Linked DNA regions of Homo sapiens. The protein of the gene in region 2 purifies or fractionates together with the protein of the main gene of each other region. This does not show direct contact. Each region holds a gene or a part of one and is shown on either strand. Other genes may lie near its edges.

Region 1 (7,027 bases), about 19 Mb from region 2:
TCATGTCCTTTGTAGGGACATGGATGAAATTGGAAACCATCATTCTCAGTAAACTCTCACAAGAACAAAAAACCAAACACCGCATATTCTCACTCATAGGTGGGAATTGAACAATGAGAACACATGGACACAGGAAGGGGAACATCACACTCTGGGGACTGTTGTGGGGTGGGGGGAGGGGGGAGGGATAGCATTGGGAGATATACCTAATGCTAGATAACGAGTTAGTGGGTGCAGCGCACCAGCATGGCACATGTATACATATGTAACAAACCTGCACATTGTGCACATGTACCCTAAAACTTAAAGTATAATAATAATTAAAAAAAAGAGTTATTATCAAATCACAATGTACATAAAACTCACTTAGACATGACTGTTTAAAACACTGATTCCTGGACCCCACCCTCTGGGATTGAGTAGATAGTGAGGGCCAGGAATCTGCATTTTGAAGACCTTCCAAAGGATTCTGACACAGGTGTTCAATGGAGTGTACTTGAAAAAATACACTGCCCTAAATAAATTCTTAATAAAGCTCAAATCTCACAAGCTTTTCAAATTCCTTATTTATCTTCAATATTCCTTTACACAAGTATCTAATTTCCTCTTTATCTCTAAACTTGAAAAAAAAAAACCTGTGTGCACTTAGTAACTCCACATCCCAAATACCCAGTTACTACCTAATCCCTCACAATTTGGTTTACATCTCATCACTATTCAAACTTACTCCCTGAGGATCTCCAAGAAATAGCTGATCAATCCAATAGGTGTGTGTGTATATATATGTGTATATATATATATGTATATAGATATATGCGTGTATATATGTGTATATATATATGTATATAGATATATGCATGTATATATACGTATATATATATGTATGTATAGATAGATATATGTATGTGTCACATTACAATGTTTTGGTCCACAATGGACCCACATATGACAGTGGTCCCATAAGATTACAATGGAGCTAAAAAATTCCAGTCCCCAAGTGGTATCATAGTAACACATTACTCACATGTTTGTGGCAATGTTGGTGTAAACCAACCGATTGCACACTGCCAGTCATATAAAAGTATAGCATGTACAATTATGTATACTGTATACTACTTAGTAATAATAATCAATGACTATGTTGCTGGTTTATGTATTTACTATACCATATTTTTAGTCTTAAAGTATATTCCTTCTGCTTATATGTTTTAAAAGTTAACTGTAAAACCACCTCAGGCAGGTCCTTCAGGAGGTCTTCCAGAAGAAGGCATTATTATTATACAAGATGACAGCTCCATGGGTATTACTGTCCCTGAAGACCTTCCAGTGGGACAAGATATGGAGGTGGGAGACAGTGATACTTATGATCCTGACCCTCTGTAGGCCTAGGGTAATGTGTATGTTTGTGTCTTTGTTTTAAGCAAAAAAGTTTAAAACTTAAAAAAAAATTAAATACAAAAAAAGCTTAATAGAAAAAGGATATAAAGAAACCAAATATATTTGTACAGCTATACAATGAGTTTGTGTTTTAAGCTCTTTACTACAAAAGAGTCAAAAAGTTTTTTAAAATTTAAGTATATAAAGTTAAAAAGTTACGATAGGCTGGGCATGGTGGTTCACGCCTGTAATCCCACCCAGTACTTTGGGAGGCCAAGGCAGGTGATCACCTGAGAACCTGGAGTTCGAGACCAGCCTGGCCAACATGGTGAAACACCGTATCTACTAAAAATAAAAAAATTAGTCTGGTGTGGTGGCATGCGCCTGTAATCCAGCTACTCAGGGGCCTGAGGTAGGAGAATTGCTTGAACCCAGGAGGCAGAGGTTGCAGTGAGCTGAGATCATACCACTGCACTCCAGCCCAGATGACAGAGGAAGACTCTGTCGCAAAAAATAAAAAAAAAAAAGTTACAATAAGCTAAGCTTAATTTATTATTGAAAAATAAAAAATGTTTAAAGAAATTTAGCATAGCCTAAATGTGCAGTGTTTATAAAGTCTACAGTAGTGTACAGTAATGTTCTAGGCCTTCATATTCAGTTACTGACTTACCTAGAGTAACTTCTAGTCCTGCAAGTTCAGTTCATGGTAAGTGCCCTATACAGGCGTGCCATTTTTCATCTTGTATACTATATTTTTACAGTACCTCTTCTATGTTTAGATACACAAATCCTTACCATTATAACTGCCTAGAGTATTCTGTAAAGTAACATGCTATACAGGTTCGTAACCTAGGTACGTAGTAGGCTATATGATCTAGGATTCTGCAAGTACATACCATGATGGTTTCATAACCATGAAATCCCCTAATCACCTTTGTTCTCAGAACATATCCCCACTGTGAATTGATGCATGACTGTGTATAATACTTGGAGCCATAAACAAGACAGATAAGTCTTGTTTACATGAAGCTTGTCTTTTAGTGAGATAAACATGCAACCAATACAAAAACAACAACAAAGTGGTCAAAAGGGCACTGATGAAACTGATACGGATTTGGAGGTACATGCTACTTTACACTGGTTGGCTAAGAAAGGTGTCATTAAAGATGTAACATTAAAATGAGATCTGAATAAGAAAAATGCAGATACAGAAGTATCACAGGGAGGGAGTTCTGGCCACAGAGAACAGTTATGAGTGCAAAGGTCTGGAGGTGGGAACATATCTAGATATTTACGGAATACACATATCAGAATGTCTGGAGCAAGCTGCCCAAGGAAACATGGCAGGAGATGAGGTTGAGAAGGCAAGCAGGGCCTACATTTTAGAGATTAAGGTAAGGAATCAGGATTAATTCTAAGTACAAAGGGAGGCAAGCAGTCAGGGGGCTTTGCACAGGAGAAGGATGAGATCCAATTATCCTTTGAGGTCATTCTCGGTACATTGTGGAAAACAGATTGTAGCAGGACAGGTGGGCCAGTTAGGAATCTCCTGAGGTATCCAGGTGAGAACATGGTGTGGGAGGAAGAAAAGTATACATTTCCATCTTTTTTGAAATTCTTCTTTCTGTGGTTTCCATAATCTTCAGCTCTCCTGGTTCTCTTAACTCAGCCCATATTATAATACTGGTACTACATTAATATTTGTGAACCACACAACATCTACAAGGAGTTCTTTACTTGCATTACTTATTTTAAATTTTCACATCAATTCTGTGATCCTTACAGTGTTATCATTTAGATTTTGTACATGAGGAATTCATATTGAAAAAAATATTAATTAACTTGCCATAGGATGCAGAACTAAGAAGAGGCAGGACAAGAGTTTGAAGTCACTTTACCTGACATCAAATCGTTTCTCTTGCTACTCTATCACACTGCTGCCTTCTATGTTTCTGGTTCCTTTTTCCTCTCCCTTCACCACCCTCCGTCAGCTACTGTGGGTACACCCCTAAACTTCCCTTCCAGCCACTGAAGGTTCATTCCATTTCTCCTAATCCTCTGTTTCCAGATGTTTGCAACATCCTTCCAGGGAATGTCTTATTCACAGCTAAAAGTCAATGTTCCCAAAATTAAATTCCTTTTTCCTCCAAGCATCCTCCTCCTTTGGGCTGCATTTATATTATTAGTATCACCATCTTCAAAGCCTCAATTTCATGTTTAACTTGATTTTTCTATCATAATACCAATATTAAGTTAGCTGTCAAGTCCCAATGGCTCCATCATTTTAGCATCATTTAGCATCCAGCATTATGTTACTACGTCCAATCTTAGACCTCATTCACTCTCATCTGGACGAGGGGAATGACGTGCAGCTCATCTTCTCCTTGTAGTCTCACTTTCTTCAGATTCACCTTACACTTGACAGTGGCTTAAAATTTCTTGAAACATAAGTCAAAAACATCTACAAATTTAAACCAGCATCCCAAGCTGTTTATGATCTAGCTGAAATCTACTTTAAACTTTGCCTATTACTTTTTTGCTTCAGAGAAATGAACTACCATTCATTTCCCAGCTATATCAAATTCTTCTAGCATTGAAGATTTTATTCACCTTATTTTTTGTCTGAAATGGCCTTCTTCCAAATTTACTTGTCTAATCCCACCCTACATTTTAAAGGCCTAGATAAAATACCACTTCTTTTAGTGAGCCTTTCCTTAGTGTTTTCATCATTCCCCACTTACATGCTCCAGAATGTAAAAATTCTTAAAGACTACAGATTAACTGACCATCTTCGCACACTCAAAATTGCTCAAACCAGTGCCTTGTTTACTGCAAGAAAAAAATCTTGCTGAATGAATGAATGCATTCATAAAAAGTGTGAAAATGTGTAGTCAAAACACTTTGTAGAAGGGCAAATCTAACAAATGTTAACTTCTACAAAACTAAAAGATAACAGTTAAATCAGTATGAAAGAAAAATTTTAAGTCACTACATTTCTTTACTAAAAGCAATGGTTTTGAAATCATTAATGTTATCTGGAAAGAAATCCATTTCTACTTACCCGCTGCTGACACCTAACCATATCCATCAACTGCTGAGCTCCAGGAGATAACTTTGACCCCATGGACTCCATTATGGTTTGGACCTTGTCAAGGTCTATCCTTGATCCTAGAGCAGGAGAGCTTGTTGAAGAATTTGCAAAAACTGATCTCATGTGTACCACAACTTTACTGATGAACACACACTGCCTTTCGCCAAAGGAGAGCAACTATTATAAAACAAAAGTTCCAGAAAAGAATGATATTAAAAACAATAATCATTTAATGTAACTTCTTGGTATGACCTAAACAAGAGTGAAGTATTCAAGAATCTAAAAATTAACTTCAAGTATATTTTAAACTTTTCTCTAGAACAGCAATAGTCAGGAAAAATTCCAATTTATCATGAGGCTCAGATGAACTATTTAAATAAGAGTCCTTTCAAAAATTAAGACTTCATGTAAAATAACAAATGAGGTGATTAAATAAATGTTTACCTATTTAAAGAACTAAAAATAAACTATAGTAGTTCCTCTTTATCTGTGGAGAATGTGTTCTAAGACCTCCAGTGGCTCCCTGAAATTGCATATAGTACCAACCCCTATATTTTTTCCTATACATACATACCTATGATAAAGTTTAATTTATAAATTAGGTATAGTAAGAGTTTAACAATAGAGTAATTTTGACAACATAATAAAAGTTATGTGAATATGGTCTCCTCTCTCTAAATCTTACTGTGCAATACTTACCCTTCCTGTAATGACGTGACATGATAAAATGCCTACATAATGAGATGAAGTGAGGTGAATGACACAGGCATTGTAATACAGGATTAGGCTACTACTGACCTTCTGATGATACATTTGGCTAGTAAGTGGCTAATGGGCAGTAACATATACAGCAGGGACATACTAGACAAAAGGATGATTCATGTTCCAGACAGGACTGAGCAGGATGGCAGGAGATTCGATCACACTACGCTGAATGAAGCACAATTTAAAACTTATGAATTGTTTATTTCTGAAATTTTCCATTTAATATTTTTGGACCTCAGTTGACTGTGGGTAATGGAAACTGTGGAAAGTGAAACTGCAGATAAAGGAGAACTGCTATATACCAATCTGAGACCTTAACACACCACAACTTGCTACTTAACACAAAATAAGTCTGTCCAAATGCTCATGTAAAACGTTTACTGAAATAAGTAAAATGCAATCCTTTCAAATTCAGAACTATAAGAGAATATCAAAATGATGTAATATAGCTTGCTGGATTACACATAGAAATGATGACTTCAAGGGTGATTTTTCTAACTTGTTAAAGGACACTCAATTAGTAAAGAACCAGCTTGAAACCTATCTCTTCTGGCTTCTATCCCTGTAGTTTATCCAACATTTTATCCTGTCCATATTTCTGAAACGAGACATTTCATGTATGGTACAGACAACAGAGTAGCAAAATGGAAAGGGAACGGACTTTAGAATCAGACAAACCTAAGTTTAACTTACGACTCTGGTACTTAACAACCTGTGTGACCCTGGGCAAATGCTAAATCTGAGTCAGGATAAAAATGAGAGAAGACAGTAGCAATGATTTCACATAGTTGTTGCGAGGATTATATGTTAAAATTTCCAGTAGCTACCAGTAAGTAAGTGCTCAAAAACCTGTATAAGTAACCATTTTTTTATTTGAACTTCCATATACTATTGCCTCAGAACAAGCTTTCATATCAATCCTAGAGCTTCCCTGAAATAACCCTTTGCACTCCCATGTACCTCCATTGAACAGTTAAAAAAACATTCACCTTCAGAGAGACACACAGGTCCACATGTCAAACAAGGACATAGGTCAATACAGACTCATGATCCAAGAACTCTTAAGTGTTGAACCAAAGATGTGACTGTCTTCAACATTTTAAGGAAACACTCTTATTAACCTCCTACCTCTCAACCTCTCTATTATCCCCCTTTCTCTTTTTAACCCCATAGCCTTTTTCACCATTAAATATAGTATTTATTTTACTCATTGAGTCTCCTTATTGTCTGTCTTGCCCACTAGAATACAAGCAACATAAGTTCAGGCATTTCAGTTTATTTTCTTATTGCTAATTCCTAAATGACTGGTATAGTACCTGACATTAAGAGGCACTCAAATCTTTGTTGAATGAAGAAATTACTTTATTCAAATGGTTTTAGAAGCTATTTAATATATACTATCCAAAACAACATCTTGGGATAATCAGTCCTGTGAGTTTGCTATCTGCCTGTAAAAATCACTTATTTTTTCTTATTGTAAAAATAGGTTTCAATCTTCTATAAGTAATGATAATAAGTACAGAAGTTTAGAGATAAAAAGAATCCAAGAATTTTCTTCAGCTCTCTAATTTTACCCATGAGATAGGTCCAAAATCTGCCCAAGACTAATCCACTAGTCAGGACAGAACTGAATTAGCATTCAGGGCTTAAGACTTCCAATCCATTACCTTATCCCTAGACTCTGAAGACATAACTAACAGTTACCTTAACAATATTTTTCATGCTGAAGACAACAGTCCAATCCCTTTAACTTATTGGTTCTCTTGCTTGAAACTTCTCTAATTTTGTTCTTTT
Region 2 (7,027 bases):
GACGTAGTTAGTCCTGGGTGATAAACCGGTGTTTCATTTCCTGCTTTGGAATTCTTTCCAGTCACAAGACCCTCGGTGTCTCCAGGCCCATGGCCAAAGTTTGGAGAATTACACTCATACTCGCCCACGTGGACAGCGACATTCATTTGCCAAATGGAAGGTATTTAGGTTTGGAGTGTTTTCTTCTTCCTTCTCCCTCTTCTTAAGCTTTCACCAGGGAGGTCTTTGGAGGGTGCCATTCTGTAGTGACAAGCATCAGTCATAGGTTGACCCTGAACCTCAGCATCAGCATCTGCACCAATAATCTGGAGATCAAACTAGGCTGAAGGCCAAGGAGTTAGGAGGCACACAGGCTCCCAAAATGTGCTCTGACATTAGCACCAGGCACTTTCTAGAAAATAGTTAGAAGCTACAGGCTAGGCAGGCCAGGTGGCTCATGCCTGTAATCTCAACACTTTGGAGACCAAGTTGGGTGGATGGCTTGCGGCCAGGAGATGGAGACCAGCCTGAGCAACATAGTGAGACCCTGTCTCAACAACATTTTTTTAAAAATTAGCTGGGCGTGGTGACACATACCTGTAGTCCTAGCTTCTCAGGAGGCTGAGGCGGGAGAATCAACTGAGCCCAGGAGTTCAAGGCTGCAGTGAGCCGACTGTCCCACTGCACTCCAGCCTGAGTAACGAAGCAAGATCTTGCCTCAAAAAAAAAAAGGAAAAAAAAGCAGCAGTAGCAGCAGCTACAGGCTAGAGGAGTCAGACAAATGATTATCAGAAGAATACATTTCCTGTTTTCATTTTATTGGGAACTTCAAAGAAAAGAAAGAGAGACGGATTGGTTCCCAAGACAAGCCGTGACGTAGACTCCCAACAAGCTGGGGAATTCTGGACAGCGAAGGGGTGGACAGTGAGACTCAGCACAGCCCAAAGTCAAAGGCATTAGGGTTGTTCTGAAAATAGAGATTCAAGAAGCCCTGGAAAATGCTCTTATCCATGAGAAGAGCACAGACTGTGGGGTCCCACTTCATGGCTGATATCCAGAGCCGCAGGGCTGGCGTGTGGCTCACACAGCTGCAAGACAGGAAAGAAGCGTCAGCACAGTGCAGGGGTAGGCATCAGGAAAGGGGATGCACGTTGCTTTTTAGATTTGCAAGATATGAAGAATGAGTTTATTTGGGAAGTTATCTTAGTTATCTTATTATCAAGTGAGAATGATAACTTACTGGAGGAAAATCTTATTTTTGGAATAGTTGAATGTTTAGAAGTTGTTGCTTCTAATAATACAGTGAAATACTTTGGACTGATGGCTCTGGGAAAATAACATGTCTGTGCTTCATTTTTTTTGTTTTGTTTTTTAATATATATATATTCTAAAGCTTGAGAAACTTACATGTGCTTCACTGCTTGCCAACAAAAAGACAACCCTCTGAAACAAATATTCTTGGGTCATTCTCAGATTTTACTTTAGGAGATATAAAAAAATAAAGACAAATAATTTCTAAAACATTTTTTAAATGAATAAAACAAGGATGAAACCTTGAAGTCATGGAGCCGACAGGGCTCTTTCAAAGCTCAACCAGGATATTTAGTTCTGGGGTTTATAAAGCAATAAGCTGAAGATAATATGAATGGGTTGTCGGGAATCCAGGACTAGAAGTGAGGTTTCCTAACCTGTGACTCCATGCTCTGTCTTCAGAGGATACAGCCTTTTGTAAATTTTATGTTTGATATTGAGTTTTAAATATCCTGACAAAGAGAGCTGAAGTCGGAAGTGCAGGAGACAGTGGCTGGTTGGGCTCCAGCCCACGGGTTATGAAGGTGCAGACACAGTTCTGCTTCAGCAGGGCCGGATTTCCAAGTGCCAGAAATGTCCAGCACCCACCATGAGGGTGGCTTGGATTAGGGTGGACGTCCGCACACGTCCAGCTTCACTGAGCTTTGAAGTAACACAGCACTGCTCTGCCCAGGAGCCTACACAGCTATTTCTTCTCCTTTAATGTCCCTGCACTTCCATACTTCCATAGTGTGTCACTGCCATTTTGTTTGTATGTTCCAATATCAAGCATATATTACTACACAAATCTTTTTTATAAGGTTATTCCTATCTGGGGGAAGATTCCTCCGGGCAATGAGACATGACTAAGGTTATATGGTGTCCCCTGGGGACCCGTCAGGACCAGGTGGAGGCGTTGGGCACTGTGACTGTGACTGTGACTCTCCACTTGCTCTCAGACCGGCCATGTGGGGGCGCTGGTGAGGACAGCAGGCTCTGAAGTCTGCGGGAGGCTCCTGGGCTAGGGGTCTGATCTGCAGAAATGCGGGCAAAGTGTGGGTCTGAAGTTAGCAGTGGAAAAGCACATATGTTTTTAACAAGGAAGCACACACTGCGGTTTAGAAACCTGATTCACTTCACAGACATCCTGAAACATGTCTACAGGGGGCATGCAGACCATCTTAACCATTGTTACTCAGTGTGACTCCGGGAATTTAACACCACAATGTCAAATGTCTTACTCCAGTATCCCATACACATCCAGCCGCTCAAACCAGGGCCAGAGGAGGTAATCAATCATGGATATACAGGTTCCACCAAAGAAGGTGGTGTTCTGATACTCAAGAATCTAAAAATGGAAACAAAGCAAAAGCAAATAAGTTTATATATCTGCTGACATGTTTATAGACACTAAATGTAAATCTCAAATTAATTCCCAGAGAGGGAGAACTGAGGCCTCTCTCCTTCTCCCTCTGGTTAGGAGAATGCTTCTTCTCTTTCTCTGAGGTCTCCTCTGCCTCTTTTAGGGTCACACTCCTGGCCACCTCTGTCCCTTCCCTCCTTTCAACACTAGAGTGACAGTGTGGCTCATCTGATTGAAGAAACTGGAAGAACAACCTCTACAGAGTACCCCAGTCCCTCCCTCTTAGCCTGGAGCAGCTCCTCAATGTGCTAAGCCTTCCAAGGATAAGCTGAGCCCTGGACAGAGGAGGCTCCCCTTCAGGCCAGCACTGCCCATTACTTGAAGACAAGGTGAGCCTCAGCCTGATGTTGAAGGCTAGCATTAGGAACCCCGCTCAGGATCTCCCATTCTCCAAGATCTGCTTTATCAATAAGAAAGGGGATGCTGCCGGGCCTGGTGGCTCATGCCTGTATTCCCAGCACTTTGGGAGGCCGAGGCGGGTGGATTACCTGAGGTGGGGAGTTCGAGACCAGCCTGACCAACATGGAGAAACCCCGTCTCTACTGAAAATACAAAATTAGCTGGGCATCATGGCACGTGGCTGTAACCCCAGCTACTGGGGAAGCTGAGGCAAGAGAATTGCTTGAACCCGCGAGGCGGAGGTTGTGGTGAGCCAAGATTGTGCCATTGCACTCCAGCCTGGCCAAGAAGAGCAAAAAGTAAAAAAGAAAAAAAGAAAAAAGAAAAGAAAAAGAAAAAAAGAAAGGGGATGCTCTAATCTCCATGCCTTATTATTTTATCTTCTCAATTAATTCAAAACTAAGGCAGGAAAGAGCATCCTATTTAACAGGCCCCCTCAAATTCCAACCTGTGTTCTTCTTCTTCTTTTTTTTTTTTTTTTTTTTTTTTTAGATAGGGTCTTGCTCTGTCACTCAGGCTGGAGTCCAGTAGATCGATCACAGCTCACTGCAGCCTCAACCTCCCGGGCTCAAGCAATCCTTCCACCTCAGCCTCCCAAGTAGCTGGGATTACCCCTGGCTGATTTTTACATTTTTTTTGTAGAGATGGGGTCTTGGGGTCTTGCCATGTTGCCCAGGGGTCTCAAACTCCTGAGCTCAAGGGATCCTCCTGTCTTGGCCTCCCACAGTGCCGGAAATACAGGTGTGAGCCACTGCACCCGGCCCCCAACTCTGTGTTTCTATCACACTTTTTTTTTCATTTGAGCTTTTCAAACTTCACATTTGTTGGCCACTCAACACTATTACTTAATGCATTAAAATAAAATTTCTCATTCCCAAATGAGACAAATCAACCCGGAGGGACTGTAAATCAGATGGACTGTAAAGAAAACAAACTCTCAACAGACAGGCAGCCAAAGACAGCCCCAAAAAAGTACCTGCAAATTTAAAAAAGCGAAAGTGTTTAGCAGAGGTTATTGTTGGTACAGGTCTTCCCAAAGAGAAAAGTATGGCACGAATTACCTGCTTCAATCAAGCAAGCTACTCATTTTGACCTATATAACTCATAATCAACTCAATACTTCCCTATAGCTATAGATCTTGATTGCTGGGCCCAGGTGAGTTGTGGAAATAAGCTATACTCGTGTTTTCATCTGGAAATATCAGGGTTCTGGTGAGGGACAGAGGGCAAAAGGACCAGAATCAAACTGTGGATTAGGGTCCCGGGGCAGGGATGGCACTGGCAGCCAGGAGACACCCAGGCTTGCTTCTTCACATGCCAGGCCAGCTTGTTGACTCTGCTGTGGGGTGATTCAGAGTTGTAGGTAAGGATGTGAGCTTGGGAACCAGCAGACTTGGTCCTGTGCTGTGTGCTGAGCTTGACCTCTGATTCAGCATGGAACCTGGGGCAACTTACCTCCCCTGCAAGCCTCCATGTTCTCATCTGCAAAATGGTGGTCATGTTAGCACGCACCACGGAGGTTATGGTGAGGAGTAAAATCACCATGTATGAAGAACACTCTGGCCCCACTGAGTAAATATGAGCTCCTGTGATGAGTGGGAACACAGGCCCCTGAAGGTGACACCCACAGAAAGCAAATCCATCCCTGATAGAAAGGATCAATGGGCTCCTCCACCTGCCACCCCTTCTCAGAGGGGTTGCCCTAAAGCCTACACCTTCACACCTCCCAGTGTGGCATAGAGAAGTCCCCCTGATCATTGTCCTGGAAGTCTGAAAAAACATGTTAGGTGGCATTACCTTGTTCAAGGAAGCTAACAGGATGGCACTAAAACAGCAGGGTCTGACCAGTGAAAACTCAAAACAGAAGCTATTTATAGCCAGGTATGAATAAAATTTGGTTAGAGGGGAAAGGAACAAATCATTCCATTTTTATGGATTCCAGAAGGCTCCAGACTTTATGTTCAGGAATAGATGATCACTACTCAAACTCTTACCACTGGCTTTGAAATGTGTGCCTCCAGTTTGTTATTGGGCTTCACGGCACAAATCAGAACCAAATTTACACCAAGCGACTCTGGAACATCTACACAGCTCTTCTGCTTTACAGAACAGAGGTGTTCTTGGAAAAGTCTTTGTCAAAACAAACCATAAATAGACATTTAATGGAACCCATGGTGGGTCCTTTGGTAAAGTGAGGAGGGAATTTTTAATTAGTAACTGATGTTTATTTAGTGTATATCTCTAAAGCTTTCCATTTACTCAAAGTAGGAGCATGCCTCTAAATATACATGATCTGATGGACACTATCAATTTATATATAAACGCTCATAAAATAACCCAAGCCTTATCAAGGTACTCGGCACAATAAAAAGCTGAGATGAGCATTAGGAATAAATGGATCGGTGATCCTTCACCAGTCCCCCGCTCAGCAAATGCACATACACATTTCCCTCACATTTTCCAAATATGTCTTGAAACCACCCACATCAAAACTACTTGCATTTCCTAATACAGCTGCAGATTATTGAGCCCCATCCCAGACAGGTATTTTTCCACCAATTTCAAGCAGGGTAAGTCTAAAATCCCAACAGAAAAGCTGTCTTTCCCTAAACTAGCACAAAGTGCTCACTCCTTTACAGACGTAGGAGAACATCCTGGACAGGCCTCCCTGGAGGTCTGCTGAAGTCCTCAGGACTCTCGATAGGAGAGTTCCCTTCTGTGCAAACCTGGAACCTTCCAGACATGTAAAATTACTTTTTCCCCTTAAGAATCCTGGAAAATTGGGACTGGAAGGACCCCTGAAACTCATCTAAGTGGGACCTCCTCATTTCACCATTTATTTCTACCATGATCATTACACAAAGGATTAGAAGTGTAGTGTAAAAATGTGCACTACATACTAAATATGAAAAATAATAAAATGCTATAATCAGGGAAAACGCAAGTTGGAACAGAAGGTCAAAAACCAGGAAGGAAAACAGTATCAAGATATCACGTCCTGGGTCCTGCAGAGTTCCTTCAATAAAGCCTTGAATTTGACTCTTGAGTTTCCTGGCAGCCAAAGGGGAGAGGAAAACATGCTGGTGATGTGATTCTTGTCTCCCATGGGGAAGGACAGGGGAGCCTTGCTGTGCAGAGGAGGAAACCCAGTCCCAGGGAGGTTAACGGGCTCTCCGGTTTGCACTGGAACTAACACGCATATCACATTTTCCTAATTCTCTGACTAGTGTCAACCCTGTGTCATTCAATTCAAATATGTATTTTTAGACTCTAATGAAAAGCTTCCTTAAATTGCTTGAGCCAAGGAGTTTGAGACCAGCCTGAGAAACACGGTGAAACCCCGTCTCTACAAACAATACGAAAATTAGCTGGACGTGGTGGTGGCACCTGTAGTCCTAGTGATGCCTGTAGTCCTAGCTACTAAGGAGGCTGAGGTGGAAGGATCACTTGAGGCTGGGAGGTCAAGGCTGCACTAAGCTGTGAACATGCCACTGCACTCTAGAGAAAGACCTTGTCGCAAAAAAAAAAAAAAAAAAAAAATTGGCCAGGCGCAGTGGCTCATGCCTGTAATCACAGCAATTTGGGAGGCCGAAGTGGGCAGATCACTTGAGCCCAGAAGTTTGAGACCAACCTGGGCAACAGGGTGAGACCCCATCTTAAAATAAATAAATAAACAGAACAAAATAAAAATAAAAAAGCTTCCTCAAGTCTCTTGTGAATTCTTTTCTGTAAGAATGAAAAAGAATACCATGACTTGATATCTTGATACGGTTTTCCTTCCTGTTTCTTGACCTTCTGTTCCAGCTTTAAATTTAAGTAACAGAAAAAAGCTTGGAACCAGCAAACTCTGAAAGCTCCTCCTTCTCTACAGCCAAGGATTGGTTCGGCTCTGAGCTTCTCTGTGAAAAGAATTTCCTCCTTAGTCTCACCTTTTCA
Region 3 (6,958 bases), about 21 Mb from region 2:
TTTACATCATAGCTCTGTAAAAATTCGGCTTAAAACTAGGTCTTCTAGACAGTTTTCTAGTATAGTTGGAATTCCTTCAGAGGTCTGGCTGGTGTGGGAGCGGGTTCTGGCCACCATGGAGGGCCTGCAGGGAGCTGGCCGAATCTCCAGTGCACCTGCCCCCAGGCCTACGCAGCAGACCTACCTACAATGGTGTCATGCACAGAAGTCCAGACCTTCACCTCACCTCGAAAGAGCCTGTTTTATCTGTTACACTGTCTTGAAATTGAAAATATGAATTATGAACGAAAACAGCCTTGTGCACTGTAGCCATTACAAAGAACAGGGGATGTTTGTGTGTAACTGGACAAGAGCCATGTAGCAGCAGCAATAAGTAAAATATTCTAGGGAGAATTTAGTGGACAGCAGAATTTTACTTTTAATGTTTTGAGCTTTGCTTTGTAAAGTTTATTAATTTTAGACTGAGTTCAAATCAAAACTCAATGTGAAGAATGGAAATTGGAAAAATACAAAGACATTTTAAATAAATAGTTTATTTATTCAAAATAGTTTTCTTACCTTATTCACAGTTTCAAGTTTGAAATGAAAAAAAGGGGTAGTACCTGTTCTTGATCAACTGTCATATAAAGTCAAAAGTGAATCCTTTCAGAACATGCATTAAATACAGCAAATTGCACAACAGCTCGTCTTTGAAAAATCCTGCACTGAAGCTTATGAAGAACACACCTTTTTTCTGGACAATTTAAAAGGAAACACTGTAGATGTACAGGAGGTCTCCTTAACCCACTTGAACCTGTAATGTCATCTGGATAAAAGTTCTCTTGACCAAAGTAACATTTTATCCAAAATAATCATATCTTAGACCCGTGTAGCTTGACATACTTCAAAAATACGTGAAAGTGTAACTGCATCACAGCAGGTCTGTTAATACCGAGGTACTACATACTTCTCAAAGACATAAATAGTGGAAGCTTTAAGTTTGATTCTGATGTTAGCACTTCAAGTGAAGAAGCCACAGAACTCAACCGTAATTTGTCTGTCACTTAAAATAACTCTGTGTTTCCACTGATATACCTGTTTTAAATGGATATTTCCCTATTATTTAATGAAACAAAGCACCGAATGAACAAACCGGCTCCGTGTTGAAGGCACTGACAGCGTGTCTGGGACACGGCTCTGTGCAGTCACTGAACGGCATTGCTGCTCGCTGCACTGCCGGCGGCAAGCTGGCCCAGCAGGTGGACGATAACGTTGATTCTTTCCAGAAGAGTCGCGGTTTTATTTGCAGTTGCTCTCAAAAGCTGGGAGTAAATGTGCTTGTTGGTTTTGAGAATTGTGTCATCTTCGATGTTATTGCTAGGGTTAAAAAAGAAAAAGAGACAGGTAAGGGACCAGCAATGCCTACCGACAATTCAGAGGTCCAGAAAACCGGACAGTGACAGCCCAACAGTCACTCTTCACAGAGCAGCAGGCATTCCTCTCCTGCCGGGTTCAGACCTGCCTTCTTTTACATATTGCTCATGGGCCTGTTTCTACACATTTATTTCAATACATCAATGAAATCCAGTACTCATTCCTTTTATAAATATTTGAATGCCTATTATGTACTAGGAATTGCTCTTGACAGAGAACAAAACAGGCAAAAAGAAGCCCCTGCCTTATGGAATTTGCATCCTATTGAGGTAGGAGTTTGGGGGAGGGGAGGGGAGGCACTGGGGGAAACCATAGTAAACAAGAGAGTGACAGACGGACGGCCATGAAGAAAATGCAGTGGAGCCGGGTGAGGGCACAGAAGGAGCTATGCAGTATTTCCTCTGTTCCTCAAGCTCGGCCTAAGCGCCTTCCTGTGTCATAAACACACATCTAAAGCCACTGTTGTACTGCCGTCTCTAGAGCTAGAACTACCTAGGATTTAAACATGGATTCCTGAATTACAAGAACTGCTGCATCTCAGTTTACTCTGAAAATGTCAGTGCAATTCTGTGTGAAGACTGCCCCTCAGCTGAAGAGTACTAGACAGTACTCTACCTGAAAACTATTTCAGTTTACAGTTTGTCCTGAAAACATTTACCCCTTATGATGGATCGGTGAATTCTATTTTTGTTACTACTGGAAAAGACTAGTAATTACGTGGCAGTTCATATCTAGCATCTTTTTTTTTTTTTTTAAATGAGTCCAGGTGGAGACCCCTGGCTCACATAACCAGATACCAGGTAACAATTCCACAACTCTTTTCAGTGTCCATGAACACATCTGAGCCTTACAATAATCCCATCCCCTCAGATAGGCAAGGACTAGCATTTTGAATTTACAGATGTAAAACCTAAGGCCCAGAAGGGTTAACAGTTTGGACTAAGGTCAAAATGTCATGTTTTCCAATTTCAAATGCTATGCTCTTTCACCTCTTCAGGGTACAAATTTTCTCCCTTCACCCAAGGGCTTGCCAGTCAGGCCTGCCACAGAGCAGCCAGCATGCAGAGCTCCCTTCCCCAGGAGTTCCCCTTTCTATTATTCCTGGCTCCATTCCTCCTCCACAGGATCCCCATCGCTGCCTTTAGACATTTCTCCCCTCCAATTCCCACTTATTTTATCAGGCAAATCTCCTCCTGCCTTCCCCCAACAACCACAGTACAGCAAGTGACTGTTCCAAATGCATTCCCTATCTGTAATCTGGGCCTAAGATTGGCTAGATTTTAGTTTTGTGGGGAGTTAACAGTCACAAAACCTTTGATAATCTTATAGAAAATTTAAATTACTCTGACAGTAATCAAGGCATTAGCACTTAACAATTAGAAAAGGCATTTGAAAGATGACTTATTCTTTGTGGACAATGACATCACACTGTCATTTTATTAATAGTTGGGTGCCTAAAGATAATTGATGGCTGCAGGGATCATAAACTTAAAATCTTTTGATTTGTCCTAACCATAACTCTGAATCTTAAATCTTCATCTTCCAATTTCTACAAATCACGCCTTCCTTAATGCATTCTTATCAGCAGTTTCACTGACCTATGACCCCTATTCAGAGGGCTCCATCATCTCACAGGCTTTTTCTAAAGGGAACTAACTTACATTCTTTCATCTCCCTTTTTACTAATCTTAACAAAATATTAAATGTACACATCTAATGGGAACAACCCATGAATCCAAAGGATCTGTTCTTAGCACTGCAGCAGAGAGCTCCCTGAATCTTCAGAGATTACTTCTACTTTTTATGGTATTTCATTATATTAAACCGCAAAGCCACCAAAATGTTAAGAGGCCTGGATCTGTGAAAGCAATGAATATTAAAATACAGTAGAAGAGTAAATTCTAAATTCAAAAAGAGAAAAGAGAAAACCTTTGGCCTAACAAACTGCTACTGCTAGAATTTCTAGCAGGTCAATGCCAATGCAGTTGTCATATGATGATGAAATGCCTGCATCACCTGAAAATGAAAACAAAAATTTTTTTTAAACAAGTAAAATGCATCTTTCACTCTAATTCTATAGGAATCTAATAAACTTAAGATTTTAATTATTAAGCCTTGTTTATTTTTTTGCCAGAGGGCATGAAGTGGAAAAAGCAGTAGTCAAAAAATAAAACAAAAATTTGTTTAACATGGCCTCTCAGTATCTGTGGAGGATTGGTTCCAGGACCCTCCAGGAAACTAAAATTTGAGGAGGCTGGAGTCCCTGATATAAAATGGTGCAGCATTTGCATTTAGGCTGTGTACATCTTCCTATATACTTTAAATCAACTCTAGATGACTTATAATACCTAATACAATGTCAATGCCATATAAATAGTTGTTATACTATATTGCTTTTTAAATTTGTATTATTTTTTATTTATTTAATATTTTCAGTCTGTGGTTGGTTGAATCTGTGGATGCAGAATCCTTGGATACAGAGGGCTGATTGCATTTTCTTTCTTTTAGGTCTCATTCTGATTTCTCTCTATATTGCAAAAGAGAATGTTCATGTATTCACTGTGAAACAACTAAGCCTGTGGCAGAGGGTATTTTCCTCTTAACAATAAAATTATAGATGTTTTCATTTGCACATCAGTGAAAAATGAAATAGTCACTGACTTAGTAATTAATATTTTTGTTTTGAAACTTGTCAAAGTGTTTATTTTATTAACACATTATCACATTTAAGTTTAATAAACCTTAAAATCAATATAAATTAGCTAAATAAGATTGTATGTGTCATGCATGAAAACTTTAGATTACAATAGTTTTCAGCAGAATATTAATAACCTAAATAAACAGAAGCTTAGAAAACCTTCCATTAAAATAAAAATTACTTAGGTCATACATATGACTGTTACAGTTATAAAAGATAAAACTGAAACTATTACCTATTACCAATTACTCAAATGATTGACTTGTGAAAAATCAATGAATCACTTTTTCTCATGTATCATATATTTATATTACCATCTTGTGGAAACCAATACAAATTTAAAAACTTTACCCACTGCTGTTAGAAAAAGGCAGGAATTCTTTCCAAGCCTTGTTACCATATGCAGTATCTGCTCCGCCTTAGGGCTCTTCAAAAAGATGGATGTCTCTGCTAAATTACAGTGAGTGTATCAACACCCGCTGCTGTGTACCACAACCAGGATATGGTGCAGACACTGTGGATTAACAACCAAATAAGGCCAGGCGCGGTGGCTCACACTTGTAATCCCGGCACTTTGGGAGGCTGAGGCAGGTGGATCATGAGGTCAGAAGATCGAGACCATCCTGGCTAACACGGTGAAACCCCGTCTCTACTAAAAATACAAAAAATTAGCCGGGTGTGGTGGCGGATGCCTGTAGTCCCAGCTACTCGGGAGGCTGAGGCAGGAGAATGGCGTGAACCTGGGAGGCGGAGCTTGCAGTGAGCCGAGATTGCGCCACTGCACTCCAGCGTGGGCGACAGAGCGAGACTCTGTCTCAAAAAAAAAAATAAATAAAAATAAAAACACACACAACCAAATAAAAGCTCTCCTTAGACTATAGAGAATTATTCAAAAGCCATTTTTTTTCTTTTTTTTAAAGAGTTGGGTTTTGCTCTGTCTCCCAGGCTGGAGTGCAGTGGTGCCATCAGAGCTTGCTGTGGCCTTGAACTCCTGGGTTCATGTAATTCTCCTGCCTCAGTCTCCCAAATAGCTGGGATCACAGGTGTAAGCCATGGCACTTAGTTCAAAGGCAATTATTGAAAGAAGTTTCTATTCATGGTGCAGAACCGGAAAAAGTCTCTGGCTCAAGCAGGGCAAACTACAAGGTCATGGCTCTTCTTAAATCCATGAGAGAGGTGGGGCAGCCAACTAGCCTGCAATCTAAGGAGAGACAGGCTGATACAGGGAGAGAAAGGACAGTCCTTCCTTACCTGGGGCAGATGCAGCCAGATGCCAGTAAGCATTTAGCTAAAATAGTGAATGGGTTGGTGGGGGCCCAGTGAGGCTGGTGAGAAAGTATAGGGCCTCTGTGGAGTCAGGGGGTTCACATCTTCTTACTGGCTTTTCTCCAAGGACCTCACCAAATGCCCACATAAAAGACCAGTGAGAATCCTGACAGACTGACCCTCCTGCTGTAGACCTATGACAGGGTAACAGCAGCTGCTATGGGAGGGACCAGCAACCCCACCTGGACCCTTCTCCTCTATGAAACAAAAGACTCAATGGGGGTGGGGGAAGACAATGAACCCTGCCAACCTTAGGGCGTTGGTTAAAGTCAATGAAGAGAGGGGAAGGGAACAGAAAAAAACACTCTGAAGGGTTAGGTGGGGGTGCAGGAGCAGTGGGAAGGCCACAGTCCTGAGACTCAGGGACACGAGTGTCTGCCTGGACTGAGGCTTAAACAACTATGGAGTCCTTGCTAACTCCCTGCTCCCTCCCAAACAGGCGAAAAGGCACCGAAGGACCAGTGACAGTGGAATATGGCTGGAAGAACTGTGAGAGTATAAAGACAGACCCTCTCTAAGGTGCAAAACAAAAGAAAGACCTAGAGCTGAAGGTAGAGAAGACACTAAGAATCACCTTCTGCAGATCTGTTCCACCCTACACACGAGGACTGCTAGGAAAACTTGAAGCCTGTGGTACATGGAAGGTAACCATCGCAATAAAAAAATCTCAACCACAGCTCAACTCCAGGCTAGAAAAATGAATTCCACTTCCCACACTAAAGCCGTAGCAGGGGGAAAGTACAAAAAATTCCAGGCAAAAAAAAAATATTTCTCTTGGTCTCTACTATCATACATAAGGTGTCCAGTTTTCAACAAACAAGAGATATACGGAAGGCAAGGAAAAAACAACATACTTCCAAGAGACAAAGAATCAACAGAACCAGCTAATTATGACACAGATGTTGGAACTATCTCATAGGGAATTTAAAAGGACTATAATTAGTATGTTCAAGACACTAATGGACAAGATGGATGCCACGCAAGGTCAGATTGGTGATTTCAGCAGAGAGCTGGAACTGTAAGAATGAACCCAGGGCAATTGCTAGAAATAAGGAACATTGTAACAGAGACAAAGAATGCCTTCAAAAAGTTCAACTGTAGATGACACAAAACCAAGTAAGGAATCCATGAACTTGAAGACAGTTCAACAGAAATTACCCAAACAAAATCACAAAAAGGAAAAAATGGCATCAAAAAAACCAGAACGGAATATCCAAGAGCTGTGGAATAACATCAAACAGTCTAACATAGGCATAACGGGCTACAGAGGAGGAGAGAGAATGGAACAGAAGAAAGAAAAATGCTGAAGCCAGAGGTAAAAGCCATCACGACACACTCAAGCCTATCATAGTTAAACTGCTGGGGGGTGAGGCGCCTACAGGCAAGGAAGATGCATTTCTAACAGATGAACAAAAGTAGGAAACACAGCTGGCTTCTGGTCAGAAAACACACAGGCCAGAGACAATGGAGTGACATCTTTAAAGTACTGAATGAAAAGGACTGTTAACCCAGAATTCTATA

The links.
Region 1: the proteins of GSTO2 (region 2) and C10orf88 purify together in Homo sapiens (affinity purification with mass spectrometry; 2 studies listed by BioGRID and IntAct, with this or other methods). This does not show direct contact.
Region 3: the proteins of GSTO2 (region 2) and EDRF1 purify together in Homo sapiens (affinity purification with mass spectrometry; 2 studies listed by BioGRID and IntAct, with this or other methods). This does not show direct contact.

Annotation. Positions count from the first base shown.
Region 1 is NC_000010.11:122,944,211-122,951,237, forward strand, and holds part of C10orf88 (ATPase PAAT), read right to left. Parts: intron 4,646-7,027; coding exon 4,439-4,645; intron 1-4,438. UniProt on the Homo sapiens protein: ATPase that regulates mitochondrial ABC transporters ABCB7, ABCB8/MITOSUR and ABCB10. Regulates mitochondrial ferric concentration and heme biosynthesis and plays a role in the maintenance of mitochondrial homeostasis and cell survival.
Region 2 is NC_000010.11:104,293,168-104,300,194, reverse strand, and holds part of GSTO2 (glutathione S-transferase omega-2), read right to left. Parts: intron 2,618-7,027; coding exon 2,511-2,617; intron 1,068-2,510; coding exon 911-1,067; 3' UTR 1-910. UniProt on the Homo sapiens protein: Exhibits glutathione-dependent thiol transferase activity. Has high dehydroascorbate reductase activity and may contribute to the recycling of ascorbic acid. Participates in the biotransformation of inorganic arsenic and reduces monomethylarsonic acid (MMA).
Region 3 is NC_000010.11:125,757,699-125,764,656, reverse strand, and holds the end of EDRF1 (erythroid differentiation-related factor 1), read right to left. Parts: intron 1,357-6,958; coding exon 1,185-1,356; 3' UTR 518-1,184; downstream 1-517. UniProt on the Homo sapiens protein: Transcription factor involved in erythroid differentiation. Involved in transcriptional activation of the globin gene.